Homo sapiens: one gene and its partner. Each later gene encodes a partner of the first gene's protein in a complex. Each region holds a gene or a part of one and is shown in the gene's direction. Other genes may lie near its edges. The genes, in order: ODAD4 and ODAD1.

Region 1 (7,321 bases):
GGTGGCGAGTGCCTGTAATCCCAGCTACTCCGGAGGCTGAGGCAGGAGAATTGCTTGAACCCGGGAGGCGGAGGTTGCAGTGAGCCGAGATCGTGCCATTGCACTCCAGCTTTGGCAACAAGAGCAAAACGCCATCTCAAAAAAAAAAAATTAGCCAGGTGTGGTGGCGGGCACCCGTAGTCCCAGGTACTCGGGAGGCTGAAGCAGGAGAATTGCTTCAACCCGGGACTCGGAGATTGCAGTGAGCAGAGATCGTGCCACTGCACTCCAGCCTGGGTGACAGTGTGAGACTCTGTCTCAAAAAAGAAAAAGGGGGGTGGGTACAGTTAGATGCCTCAGGAAGGACAGTACACCACAGACTATGGTAATCATCTCACACAGAAAAGAGGACACTGGGAGTGGGGATATTGCCCTCAACCCCACTTTAGGGTCAAAATCAGTTTCATTTTCCTAGCATTTTCTTTTTTTTTTTTCTTTCTTGTTTTTCATTTTTCTTTTCCCTTTCTTTCTTTTTTCTTTCTTTCTTTTTTTTTTTTTTTTTTTTTGAGACAGCGTCTCACTCCATCACCCAGGCTGGAGTGCAGTGGCATGATCTCAGTTCACTGCAACCTCTGCCTCCCAGGTTCAAGCGATTTTCTTGCCTTAGACTCCCGAGTAGCTGGGATTACAGGTGCTTACCACCATGTCTGGCTAATTTTTGTATTTTTAGTAGAAATGGGTTTCACCACGTTGGCCAGGCTGGTCTCAAACTCCTGACTTCAAGTGACCCACCCACCTTGGTCTCCCAAAGTTCTGGGATTACAGGTGTGAGCCACTGCACCCGGCCTCTTTTTGTTTTGTTTTGTTTTGTTTTTTGAGACAGAGTCTCATTCTGTCACCCAGGCTGGAGTGCAGTGGTGTGATCATGGCTTATGCAGCCTCGACCTCTCCAGGTTCAAGCAATCCTCCCATCTCAGCCTCCTGAGTAGCTGGGACTACAATCATGGACCACCACGCCCAGCTAATTTTTTTGTATTTCGTAGAGACAGGGTTTTGCCATGTTGCCCAGGCTGGTCTCAAACTCTTGGGCTCAAGCGTTCCGCCCACCTCGACCTGCCAAAGTGCTGGGATTACAGGTGTGAGCCACCACTCCCAGCCTTTTCCTGGTATTTTCATCTTAATCCCCGGATATAGTGATTAGTTCTTGATTAGCTACATAAAAAGAGAAGGCTACTGGAATGGTTAAGCCACATGGCAGATTGTCCTCAAGTCCACTTCAGAATGCTTAGCCTTTGAAATTTGCTTTGAGTATGATGTGTTGCCATTTCAGGTTTGTAGTTGAGTTTGGTGTGCACAAAATACCCTACAGTTCTATTGCCTGAGGGGACTGAGGGGCTCTCAGACATTGGTGGAAAGTCAGCGTATCCACAGAGCAGCATATTCCTACTCTTCAGCCAGTGGCTTCCACAATAGCCATGATTTGACCTTGTTCAAGGTGAGCCATATGCAGATAATCAAGTTGACTGAGCGCAGATCGGAGTTGTTCTGCTTAGGAGCCAGAGGCCTGTGTGCTGGCCTGAAGAATCCCCTTGATTCTTCAGAGCCTTGATTTCTTCAGAGCCTGAAGAAATCCCCTCTGCAGGAGGGTTTGGGCTGCCCTTCCCACTCCAGCTTCTACCTTGCTCTTCATGCTGGCTGTCAACCTGACTGGTTTCTTTGTCAGGCTCTTTACCTTCAGGATGGAGACAAGAACTGCCTGGTTGCTCGCTCAAAGTGCTTCCTGAAGATGGGAGACTTGGAGAGATCCCTGAAGGATGCTGAGGCTTCGCTCCAGAGTGACCCAGCTTTCTGTAAGGTGACTGCATGGGCGGGAGGACTGGATCCTGCCATTGCCTGTAGCAACTTCTGGTTACAAGTAGTTGTTACAAGTAGAACCAGCCAGACTGCCTAGTGTTTGATGCCATTTTCTCTTCCTAGGTCATTGCCTAAGTCCCTGCCCCCTGTATTCCAACCTTGACCTTCAACCCAGGACCCTTCTGTTCCACCACATGTGAGTCCTATAAGGCCTTATCTGTTCACATTGATTTGATTTCCTCCCATTCCAGGGGATTTTGCAAAAGGCTGAGACACTGTACACCATGGGAGACTTTGAGTTTGCCTTGGTATTCTATCATCGAGGCTACAAGCTGAGGCCTGATCGGGAATTCAGAGTTGGCATTCAGAAAGCCCAGGAAGCCATCAACAACTCAGTGGGAAGTGAGTGACCACAGGGCCTATGCCCTTATCCAGGAAGGTCCTTGGAATCCTTAGGTTTAGAGGAAGGTTGAGTCACAGCAGGTGAGCAGCCACCACCAGGCCCGCAGGGAGTCCTACACCTGGATTTGGCTGCTGCAGTGTTGTTGAGGATTAGCCGGGCATGGTGGCGGGCACCACCTGTCTGCTGGGAGGACCATTCCCTGATGCACACACTGATCTCTGAGCGCTGCAGCCTTGGGTTTTCCTAAAGGTCAGATTAGAAGGGCTGTTTCAAAGTAGGCCTGTCTTTAGCCTGGTGTCAAAAGCTATAATGCGGTCCTGAGCCCAGCCTTCTATAGTCCCTGGCTTCTTTCCTCACCAGACGCATACCAAGGGCTGGCCTTAGCCATCAGCATTATGGCAGGGGGAGAAGGGAAGCAAGTGAGAGCAAGTGAGAGCTTGCTCTGTCGGTGGCAAGGCCTGGAAATGGACAGTTTCCCCTGCATCCTTGGCCTCCCTTTGTTTGGAAATCTGGCTGCCATAGCCTTGGGCTAGCGGGGGCTGTTAGCTCCTAGGAGTTATACCAAACAGCCTGCACCATTTGCCTGCTAGGCTGGCTTAGGGCCAGCTTTGCCACAGCCTCCACCATCCCCCTGCCAAAGGCAGCCATTTCTACATAAAAATATGTGATAAGTCATGCCTGGGGGGTCTGGCCGACCTGAGCTCCAGCTTCTTTCCTTGCAGGTCCTTCTTCCATTAAGCTGGAGAACAAAGGGGACCTCTCCTTCTTAAGCAAGCAGGCTGAGGTAAGGGCCCTGGTTCTGTGGTTGTATCCCTCCAAGGGAAGAGGCTATGTGTGCCTGAGAAGGGGTCTTGGGAGTCTAGCTGCAACCTGACCAGGCATACTCCGTGACTCTTGGCCCACAGAAAGGTCCTGGAGTTGGAGGAATCTGGGATCACAGACCCTAGGGCCATGGCTGGGTACACTCTGCTCCTTGCTGAAGCTCTGTTGGGTGTTGCTCCATTTTCTCAGAATATAAAAGCCCAGCAGAAGCCTCAGCCCATGAAACACCTCTTACACCCCACCAAGGGAGAGCCCAAGTGGAAGGCCTCGCTCAAGAGTGAGAAGACTGTCCGCCAGCTTCTGGGGGAGCTCTACGTGGACAAAGAGTATTTGGAGAAGCTCCTATTGGATGAAGGTTTCGGACACTTTGTTGGCACGGGGCCTTGGGGGAAAGGAAATCTGGGTGGATGCTTCATGCATGAGCTGAAGGCAGAACCTGTCATATAATATTAGCTGACGTGTACCTGTGGACAGGTTTTATTAGCATTCTCATTTTACAGATGAGGAAACTGAGGCGCAGACCAACAGAAACTAAGGTCATATATAGGTAGGCAATGACATGGCTTATATTCGAATCCAGGAAGTCCAATTTTAGAGCAATGCTCCTAAGTGCTATGGTACCCTGGGAGGGAACAACAGAGATTTGGTCTCCTTTACCACCATAGTCCCTGAAGGGACATCCCCTTTGCCTTCAATCCTTACAATGGGCAAAGGAATCCAGCGGATATGTGCTTAAATCCGAGGATATTAGTTCTAGAATGCTCTGAAACATCATCTGGTCCAAGTTCTCCTTTTGTAGATAAGGAAATAGAGACCCTGATTGGGAAGGAACTTTCATAAGTTGACAAACAAGTTCATGGTGGAGTCAACATCAGAACCCAGGCCTCTGACCTCCAGTCCAGTGCTCTTTCTTTTAAAGACAGAGTCTTGCTCTGTCACACAGGCTGGAGTGCAGTGAAGCAAATTCGGCTCACTGCCACCTCCACCTCCTGGGTTAAAGCGATTCTCCTGCCTCAGCCTCCCTAGTAGCTAGGACTATAGGCGCCCACAACCACATCCGGCTAATTTTTTGTATTTTTAGCAGAGATGGGGTTTCACCATGTTGGCCAGGCTGGTTTTGAACTCCTGACCTCAAGTGATCTGCCCACCTCGGCCTCCCAAAGTGCTGGGATTACAGGTGTGAGCCACTACACCTGGCCAGTCCAGTGCTCTTTCCACCACACTGCTGCCAGTGACAGGATGAAGGACAGAAGCCTGAGATGAATGTCCCACATCAACATGGGGATGGGAGTATTGCCATTAGCTGATAAGCCTGAGCAGGGTCACCTGTGAATCAAATGCCTCTTCTCCAGAATTGGCTTCCCAAGGTCATGTGTAGGGTTCCCTGTTCTGTGACACAGGAACAGCTTCACTGCTGGCACATCTCCTTAGCAACAGGCCTGAATGCCTCCTATTCTCCAGAGGACCCGCTGCGGAGGGAAGAGGTGGCTTGAATATTACCTCAAGTGGCCTTGTAGCTTTGCTTCTGGCTGTAACCTCTGGCCAGGCAGTGGGCAGGACTTGGGCACCCGCCTTCCAGCTTCCAGCATGCACAGGCCCACTGGGCACCTGGGAAATCACTGGGCACTGGCAGCCTGGGCCAGATCGTGCATTTAGACTCAGTGTTATCTGAGGACACAGCTTGAACTGGGGAAGCCCCGAGGCTTCTCAGCGAGCCATCCACCAGCTGCCCCTTCTGGCTAGCTCCTCATATCTTGCCATAAGGGGCCCATAGCATGGAACTCCCTGATAGTGGGGCTCTGGCTGCCTCCTGGCCTGGATAAACCCACTCTGCCACTATGCGCACTCACACTCCTCTCTGTTTCAACAACTCCAAGCAGAGCAAGTTCACAGAGGGCCCTGCAGCGGCCACCGGGAGGAAACAGGAGGCAAATCCCTTAGAGGCCTGTTCTCCTTGGCGCCTCCTCACACCCCTTCCCCACAGACCTGATCAAAGGCACCATGAAGGGCGGCCTGACTGTGGAGGACCTCATCATGACGGGCATCAACTACCTGGATACTCACAGCAACTTCTGGAGGCAGCAGAAGCCGATCTACGCCAGGGAGCGGGACCGGAAGCTGATGCAAGAGAAATGGCTGCGGGACCACAAACGCCGTCCCTCACAGACAGCCCATTACATCCTCAAGAGCCTGGAGGACATTGATATGTGTAGGTGTTGTTCTCAGAGGGTGGGGCAGGTGCCTCCAGTGCCTTATCAGGTGGGGAAGGAGCAACCAGGTGTCTGAGCCCCTGGTCTCTCAGACCTGCAGATGGTGTCTGCAGGAAGAGGAGTTACCCTGTCAGCTAAGAGGAGGCTGCCCTGGCCTCCACAGCACCCCTTTCCTTTCTCAGTGCTCACAAGTGGCAGTGCTGAAGGGAGTCTTCAGAAAGCTGAGAAAGTGCTGAAGAAGGTACTGGAATGGAACAAGGAAGAGGTACCCAACAAGGATGAACTGGTTGGAAACTTGTATAGCTGCATAGGGAATGCCCAGATTGAGCTGGGGCAGATGGAGGCAGCCCTGCAGAGCCACAGAAAGGACCTGGAGATCGCCAAGGAATAGTGAGTGCCCTAGGGGAGGCCACTGGCGTGAGCCTACGGAGAAGGACACCTGGGGCTATCTGAGGCCCTTGCCAGGGCTGCTGGTGGCTTGACTCCCATTTTCTGCTCTGCATGCCTGAGGTAGATTCTCCTGGAGGTGGGGACCACCTGCCCAGGACTGAGGGTGGGGGCACCTAGACTGTTAGCTTTTTTGCCACCAAAAGGGTAGTGGCTCAAAATTCCAAAAAGCTACCCAATGATCTGGCTCTTAGGGATGTTTATATTCTTACATCAGCTTAACGAGCATGCATGAAGCCCCAGACATGCCAGATGCTGCTAGTGTGGGAACACAGTAATAACCAGACACAAGGGCCATTTCCCTGCAGATGTCAAGCAAAAAGGGACATAGCTAATTAATTGCAATTGTGATAAGTGCCATGAAAGAAAAGTACAGGATCCAGTGTGGTGAGAAATACATTCCAGGAGGACTTGATGACATTGGGGAACACACAGGGCCTATGGAAAGGCCCTGAGACAGGAGGGTACTTAAGCCTGGAGAGCACAGCATATTGCCAGGGAGAGGGGCCAAGAGGAGGCTGAAGGAAGTGGGCAGGGGATGGATCAAGCAGGGTCTTTTAAAACCGGTGCTGATCAAGAGCACGGGCTGTGGAGTCAGGCAGACCTAGGCTGTGGAACTTGCACCGCCCAGCCGTGGAACCTGAGATAAGCCACTTTAGCTCCCTCAGCCTCAGGGTCTCCTCCTGTTAGCTGGGCACCCTGTAGGGCAGAAGGGAGGATGAAATACAGAAGTACCTGTGCAGACCTTAGGACAGTGCCTGGTATCCACAATAGTAGTAACACCAGCTCTCCAGAAATGAGATCTTCTCAAGACTTGCTGACTTCCACCCGGAGGTTCCATCGCTTTCTCAGCATCCTGGTTCTACCCTTTGGAGTCATTCTTGACTTCCTCCTGCCTGGTTTCTACCCATCTCACCAGTCTGAGCCTCCTTGATCTCCCATCATCCCATTTGCCCTCACAGTGCCCAGCCCTCAGCCGACCTGAGTCCTGCTGCTTCCCCTGCCTCTGCTGTCTCTCTCCAGCTCCTCCCACAAATCTCCAGAGACACATGCTATGAACTCTCCCTCCCCTGCTCACAAGTGGGCCTGGGCCCCTCACTGCCTGCAGGTTAAAGGTCAAGCCCCTTTGCTTGGCCCTCAGGCCCTCTCTAAACCCACCCTGGCCCTCTTATAGCAATCTTCCCTTGGGGTCAAACGTTCCTGAACATTCCTGCCTCCTGCCCTTTCCTCTTCACTGATCCAAGCCCCATATGCTTTCCATTCCCAGTTCATTTCTCGCCTGCCTCCACTGTGCTGAGCAGGAATATCCCATACTGGCCATCCCATATTAGAAAAAAATAGCTTTAGGGACAGACCTGTCTTCGATCCCTGTCTTCTAACTGGCTCTGCCACTTAGAAGCTGTGTGGATTTGATTAAGTTGCTCCTCTACTCAGTTTCCTCATCTCTAATGAAGGCATAATAATACCAACCCACAGGGACTGTGGGGATTAGATGTGATGTATATATATGGTACCTTGGATCCAACCATCTCCCATGCACAAATGAGTTAGAAATCTTTACTTCTCGCCAGACCTCTCTCCTGAGCCTCAGACCTGTGTGTCCAGC
Region 2 (7,321 bases), on another chromosome or scaffold:
GGTGACAGGGACAGCAGATGTTTGCCATGCTTAGTGACTCATTTTCCCTGGGCCATTCAATCTCTCCCACATTCAGGCAACCAAAAACAGGTACCATCCTCTTTCTTGTAGATCCAGGAGTGGGAGACGCGGATCTTTACCCACAGTAAGAATGTCAGGTCCCCGGGATTCATCCTGGATCAGAAGGTCAAGATCAGGCGAAGGATCAGGATCCTAGAAAACCAGTTGGACAGGGTGAGGGTCAAACTCCTGGTCCCTCGACCTGAATTGTGCGGTTATGGGAAGAACTGGGCATGGTCATTGGATTCTGGAAATGCTGGGCAGTGTGTGCACATATGTGTCAGGACACAGGATTCTGGAGGGATGGAGGTTCCCAAGGAAAGGAGAATGATGGGTCCTTAGAGGGGAGTGGACATTGATTTCGGGAACCCCAAAGAACCTCTGTTTCTCAGGAAACAGGCCGGCCCAACCTCTGATAAGTGTCTCCTCCTTGGCTGAGCTTGGAGGAGGCAGGCAGACTTGGCTTCAGACCCACTCTTCCATCCACCTTTCTACTCCCAGGTCACCTGTCACTTTGACAACCAGCTGGTACGGAATGCGGCCCTGCGGGAGGAGCTGGATCTGCTGCGGATCGACAGGAACCGCTATCTGAACGTGGACCGCAAGCTGAAGAAGGTCAGTGGCCCTGAAATCCAGGGGAGGAGACAGGGACCCCTGCGCAGGTCCTCCCCACAGCTGTTTGCCCTTCCTGCTCTAGCACTCAGGCCTCAAGTATGGGATTGACTAGAGCGGTAGGCTTGCTTTAGTCCAAAAGGCATGGAGGCCTGGGAAATGTTGGAGGACATTTCCAACAAAAAAGTGGCCTCATTTATAGTTGTAGAAAGCAGAATGTCATTCTGAATAGTATCACCCAGGGCAATCTATGAGCAAGCAAGACCATTTATTATACATTCCACGGGGATCTTTGAAGAACCAGCCCTGTCCCCTCTCTTTTGACTTTCTTTCTTTCTTTGTTTTGAGATGAGTCTCACTCTGTCGTCCAGGCTGGAGCACAGTGAAGTGATCTTGGCTCACTACAGCCTGTGCCTCCCAGATTCAAGCAATTCTCCTGTATCAGCCTCCCGAGTAGCTGGGACTACAGGGGCCTGCCACCACGCCCAGCTAATTTTTTGTATTTTTAGTAGAGATGGGGTTTCACTGTGTTAGCCAGGATGGTCTCGATCTCCTGACCTCGTGATCCGCCTTCCTCGGCCTCCCAAAGTGCTGGGATTACAGGCGTGAGCCACCACACCCGGCCGATTTTTTTTTTTTTAAGTAGGGACAGGGTTTCACCATGTTGCCCAGGCTAGTCTTGAATTCCTGAGCTCAGGCAATTCGCCTGCCTCGGCCTCCCAAAGTGCTGGGATTAGAGGCGTGAGCCACTGCGTCCGGTCTTGACTTTCATTTGGAAATAATTTCAAATTACAGAAAAAGGTGCAAGAATTATACAAAGAACTCCTATATATCTTTCACCCAGTTTGATAATTTGCCACATTTATTTTCTCTTTCTCCCCCACTCTTACTATTGGTGTGTGTAATTATTGTTTTGCTGAGAATAATTTATTATCCTGAATGCTGAACTGTTTGACAATATGTTGTAGACATTATGCTCCTAAGTACTTGAGAGAGCATTTCCTAAGAACAACGCCATTTCCTTACATAAACACAGTGCTGTTATCCAAGTCAGGGAGGTTAACATTGTTAGAATTCTAAACCGTCCATATGTCAAGGTCACTGATTGTCCCAGTGATGTCCTTTACAGTGAACTTGATTTTCCTACTCTAGGCTCCGGTCCAGAATCTCACGTTGCATTTGGTTGTTCTGGCTCTGTTCATCTGGGTCAGTCCCTTGGGCTTTTTTTTCTCCATGACGTTGACATTTTGGAAGCATCCAGGCCGTTTGTGTTGTGCGATGTCCCCTGACATGGGTTTATCTGGTCTTTTTTTTCTTTTTTGATACTAAGTTTCACTCTTGTTGCCCAGGCTGGAGTGTAATGGCGTGATCTTGGCTCGCTGCAACCTCCACCTCCCGGGTTCAAGTGATTCTCCTGCCTCAGCCTCCTGAGTAGCTGGGATTACAGGCATGCACCACCATGCCCGGCTAATTTTGTATTTTTAGTAGAGACAGGGTTTCTCCATGTTGGTCAGGCTGATCTCAAACTCCTGACCTAAGGTGTTCCACCCGCCTCAGCCTCCCAAAGTTCTGGGATTACAGGCATGAGCCACCACGCCCGGCCGGTTTATCTGATCTTTCTTCATGATTAGACTTGGCATCTGCACTTTGGGGGGAATGTCACAGCAGTGATAGTGTGTCCTTCCTGTGCAAGATCTCAGGAGGCACCTGATGTCAACTTGTCCCATGACTAGTGATGTTGTCTTTGATCACTTGGCTAGCCAGGAAGAGTTTTCCTTTTTGTAGTGAATAAGTGGTCTGTGGGGAGATTCTCTGAGACTGTGTAAATATCTTGTCCCCTGACACACCTTCACTCAATCATTTTGTTACGGGATATTTACGGCGTCACTTTTCTGGCTGGAAACCTCCTTGGCCAGTGGTGCCTTTGCCCGAGTTCTTGTACTGTGTCCAGGAAGAAGGAGGTAGGCAGACAAGTGGAGCGTGAGCAAGATGAAGAGGAGCTTTACCGAGTGTTAGGACAGCTCAGAGGAGACCTGCAGGGGGCAGCTCCTCTGCAGGCAGGTCGTCTCGTCCAGTGTTCAGCTATCAGCAGTGAGGAGGCCCTGGAGAGGGTGGTTCCTCTCCGCAGGCAGATTGTTCAGATGTCTCTGCAGGCCTCTGAAGCTCTCAGCAGAGAGGGTAGCTCCATGGGTGGCCATGGGCAGGCCTGGAGGAGACGTTGCAAGTCCCCACTCATTTTGCAGTACTGGCAACCTGGCCCCCAGCCTTCAGGCCCTCCCTGGCTTGAAGGAGGGACCTTACCGGGTACTTGCCCTCTTCTGCCCAGGAATCTGCCTGCCTCCTGCTGCCATTCATGGCACTGGGCTGGACCCCAACCCCTCTCTGAGATCAGAGTGGGTGTGAGAGAGGAGAGAGGCCAAGCAGCAGGAGCAGACACGCTCGAGCCTGCAGGGATCGGGGTGGGGAGGGGGGTGCGGTGGTGCTTTCCTGGGCCGTTCAGGGTACAGGCTGCAGAGAACTTCAGAGATGCCTAGGTCCTGTGGTTGGGAGGGTGGCTGCAGCTGCACTCTGGGAGCTCCCACCCCACCAACTCGGAAGGGGCAGGACCCTCGCTTGTCCCCGGCTGCTGCCTGCTCCCTGGAGTGGGAGGCCCGGGTCTGTAGCTGCGGGTTGGGCAGCTGCAGCTGCACCCGGGAGGGCAGATCCTGCCTGCTCCTGGCTCCCTGCAAGAGCACAGAGAGGCTCAGATCCACAGCAGCAGTTTGGGCAGCTGTAGTCCCGCCCAGGAGGGCGGGGATCCTGCCTGCTCTGTGGAGCAGAAGGCCTGGGTCTGCAGCTGTGGTTCTGGTGGCTGCAGCTGCACACGGGGAGCTCCCATCCCAACTCAGAAGGGTCAGGGCTCCTACCGGCTCCATGGAGTGTGCAGCCACAGCCAGCAGCTACTGCCATCAATTTTATCATCCATGAATGATTCTTCCCTGAATGGTTATTACTGTAATGGCTGCAACAGGGTAATTTAAAAGACTCTGTCATTTCTCCCACATTTATAAGATCGCATTTTCCTTAAGGAAACACTTCTCGGCTGGGTGTGGTGGCTCATGCCTGTAATTCCAGCACTTTGGGAGGCTGAGGCAGGCGGATCACCTGAGGTCAGGAGTTCGAGACCAGCCTGGCTAACATGGTGAAACCCCGTTTCTACTAAAAATACAAAAAATTAGCCAGGTGTGGTGGTGCACGCCTGTAATCCCAGCTACTTGGGAGGCTGAGGCAGGAGAATCACTTGAACCAGGGAGCTGGAGGCTGCAGTGAGCCAAGATTGTGCCATTGCACTCCAGCCTGGGCAACAAGAGTGAAACTCTGTCTCAAAAAAAAAAAAAGCAAAAAGGAAACACTTCTCTTTCTCCCCCTGTATATTTGAGTGTTGTCAGTGAGCATTAGTGTATTCTGACTTTATAGATGATGATCCGTAACTGCCATTCATTTTAATATTCAAATTGCCCCAGATTTGGTTAGTGGGAGCCCCTTCAAGCTGGCTTCTGTGGCCTTTGGACATACCCCATCACTTTTTGGGAGTACTTCCTCACTTTCTGGCACACGAAGATAGTCTGGGTAATCTGGACCTTGTTCTGCCCCATCCCTGGGGTTGGCCATTTTTCTGAGGAGTCCCGGTTCTTTCTAGGGAAGAGTAGGTGTTGAGGCACTAAGAGACCGTTTTCTTTTTTTTTTTTTTTTTGAGACGGAGTCTCGCTTTGTCACCCAGGCTAAAGTGCTGGAGTGCAGTGGCATGATCTCGGCTCACTGCAAGCTCCGCCTCCCAGGTTCACGCCGTTCTCCTGCCTCAGCCTCCCGAGTAGCTGGGACTACAGGCACCTGCCACCACGCCCGGCTAATTTTTTGTATTTTTAGTAGAGACGGGGTTTTGCCGTGTTAGCCAGGATGGTCTCGATCTCCTGACCTCGTGATCCGCCCACCTCGGCCTCCCACAGTGCTGGGATTACAGGCGTGAACCACCAGCCTGGCACTAAGAGACTCTGTTGCTACTTGGGTGTCATTGCTTTGAGGCCCTTCCTCTGGAGAGAGCTAGGAAGCACACATATTTTATATGTTTTAAAATTCTATTTATGTTTTGTAGAGATGGGGTCTTACTATGTTGTCCAGGCTGCTCTCAAACTCTTGGGCTCAGGTGATTCTCCTGCCTTGGCCTCACAAAGTATTGGGATTACAGGCATGAGCCACTGCGCCTGGCTGACATATTTTACAATAGTGAGTTCACATTGATACCTCTGATTCCATTCCAATATCACCAGCTTTTTCCTGAGCATTCCTCATTTCATCTTTCTTTCTTTCTTTCTTTCTTTTTTTTTTTCTTTTGAGATGGAGTCTCACTCTTGTTGCCCAGGCTAGGGTGCAATGGCACGATCTCGGCTCACCACAACCTCCGCCTCCCGGATTCAAGCTATTCTTCTGCCTCATTGTCCCAAGTAGCTGGGATTACAGGCATGCACCACCACGCCTGGTTAATTTTTTGTATTTTTAGTAGAGACAGGGTTTCTCCATGTTGGTCAGGCTGGTCTCAAACTCCCGACCTCAGGTGATCCTCCCGTCTTGGCCTCCCAAAGTGCTGGGATTACAGTCGTGAGCCACCGCGCCTGGCCCTAATTTTGTATTTTTAATAGAGATGGAGTTTCTCTATGTTGGCCAGGCTGGTCTCGAACTCCCAAGCTCAGGTGATCTGCCCGCCTCGTCCTCCCAAACTGCTGGGATTATGGGCCTGAGCCACCGCACCTGGCCCTATTATTATTTTTAAATAAAGTTCACTTGCTTCCATTTGCATTCAGTTTTAGTTTTCTCTCCTCTCTTTATTGATTTAATTTCCTTTATGAATATGTAAAACATTAACAAGGTTCTCAAATCAAACTATTCCAAAAGGTCTCCTAGGGAAACGTCATTTCCTCTCCATCTCCTCCACCTCATTTCCACCCAGTCCCCGTAGGTTACTAAATATTTTCTTAGTTTCTGCTTATCTACAGAAAGAGCCTTTTGATCCAGCTTATCAATTTGACTTCACACCTCTTTAAAATCCCTTTCATGGGCAGTCGCTAATGAGGAGGGTCCACATTTGGAAGGCTCAAGAGCTTTACTCCTTATTGGAGAAGCACGGGGCCAAAAGGAAAGACTTCGAGCAATGGGGTTGTAAGAAGTGGCACTGATTTTTTTCTCCTCCCCCCACAGGAGATCCACCACCTGCATCACCTGGTCAGCACCCTTATCCTCTCCTCCACCTCTGCCTACGCCGTCAGGTAGAGACTGCGGGTATCCTGGGATGGCGGGACCCAGATGACTCAGGACGCACCTTTCCATAAGGCAGTGATGGGAAGGTTCAGGACTCATGAAACACGTCAGAACCTATTTTTTCTCCCATAATATCCCCTTTTTCTCTCTCCCCGCCACCAGTTCCCCACCTCCACTGGCAAGGTCCTGTTCTGTCTTTTTTTTTGAGACAGAGTCTGGCTCTGTCGCCCAGGCTACAGTGCAGTTGCGCTATCTTGGCTCACTGCAACCTCTACCTCCCAGGTTCAAACAATTCTCCTGCCTCAGCCTCCCGAGTAGCTGGGATTACAGGTGCCCGGCACCGTGGCTGGCTAATTTTTGTATTTTTAGTAGAGATGGGGTTTCACCATCTTGACCAGGCTGGTCTTGAACTCCTGAGCTCATGATCTACCCGCCTCTGCCTCCCAAAGTGCTGGGATTACAGGCATGAGCCATTGCACCCCACCGGCCCTGTTCTTTTTCTTGGGCATGTAAATTAACCTCTACTGACCCCATCTAGCACATAAGAATGTATCTACTGGCTGGGCGAGGTGGCTCACGCCTGTAATCCCAACACTTTGGGAGGCCAAGGCAGGCAGATTGCTTGAGCTCAGGAGTTCGAGACCAGCCTGGCCAACATGGTGAAATCCCATCTCTACCAAAAATATAAAAACTTAGCTGGGCATGGTGGCGGGTGTCTGTGGTCCCAGCTACTTGGGAGGCTGAGGTGGGAGGATTGCTTGAGCCCTGGGGGCGGAGGTTGCAGTGAGCCGAGATTGCACCACTGCATTCCAGCCTGGGCAACAGAGTGAGACTCCGTCTCAGGAGAAAAAAAAAAAAAAAGCGCATCTAGCACATATATAGTGCAGCAGGGTTCCTGGAAGCATCTGGCGAATTTGTTATTCGTCAGCATTGGTTGCAAGGGACAGAGATCCTCTCGGGCCACCTTCAGATAGAGGCACACTGTAAGGAGTTGAGGAGCTGAAGCTGCTTTAGGTGTTGGCTTCTCTCTCCCTCTCTGGGGCTCTCATGAGCTCCATGCTCTCTCTCTCACTCCATCCCTGTCTCTTTCTCAGCTTCGCCCTCTTCTTTTGCTCCAAATGCTTTCTTACCTTCTACTAAGTTCTTCTCTGGCTTCTGTTTTCTCATGGTCCCTGATCGACATCAGCTGTGGCCTGGGTCGGCCTTAGGGTCTCTGTGATTTCTCTCTTTCTCTCTCTCTGTTAAAACAAACGTGGCAAAATTCACCATTTTAAAGCGTAGAATGTAGCAGCATTTAGTACATTCACGGGGCCGTGCAACCGCACCACTTCTGTCTAGATCTGAAATATTTCCATCA

The links.
Region 2: ODAD4 (region 1) and ODAD1 share a complex: the UniProt entries of both Homo sapiens proteins name them as parts of the outer dynein arm-docking complex.

The regions. Positions count from the first base shown.
Region 1 is NC_000017.11:41,933,515-41,940,835, forward strand, and holds part of ODAD4 (outer dynein arm-docking complex subunit 4), read left to right. Parts: intron 1-1,702; coding exon 1,703-1,834; intron 1,835-1,956; exon of another isoform or gene 1,957-2,029; intron 2,030-2,084; coding exon 2,085-2,235; intron 2,236-2,958; coding exon 2,959-3,020; intron 3,021-3,247; coding exon 3,248-3,413; intron 3,414-5,042; coding exon 5,043-5,267; intron 5,268-5,450; coding exon 5,451-5,658; intron 5,659-7,321. UniProt on the Homo sapiens protein: Component of the outer dynein arm-docking complex (ODA-DC) that mediates outer dynein arms (ODA) binding onto the doublet microtubule. Plays an essential role for the assembly of ODA-DC and for the docking of ODA in ciliary axoneme.
Region 2 is NC_000019.10:48,304,907-48,312,227, reverse strand, and holds part of ODAD1 (outer dynein arm-docking complex subunit 1), read left to right. Parts: intron 1-111; coding exon 112-234; intron 235-561; coding exon 562-675; intron 676-5,904; coding exon 5,905-5,972; intron 5,973-7,321. UniProt on the Homo sapiens protein: Component of the outer dynein arm-docking complex (ODA-DC) that mediates outer dynein arms (ODA) binding onto the doublet microtubule. Involved in mediating assembly of both ODAs and their axonemal docking complex onto ciliary microtubules.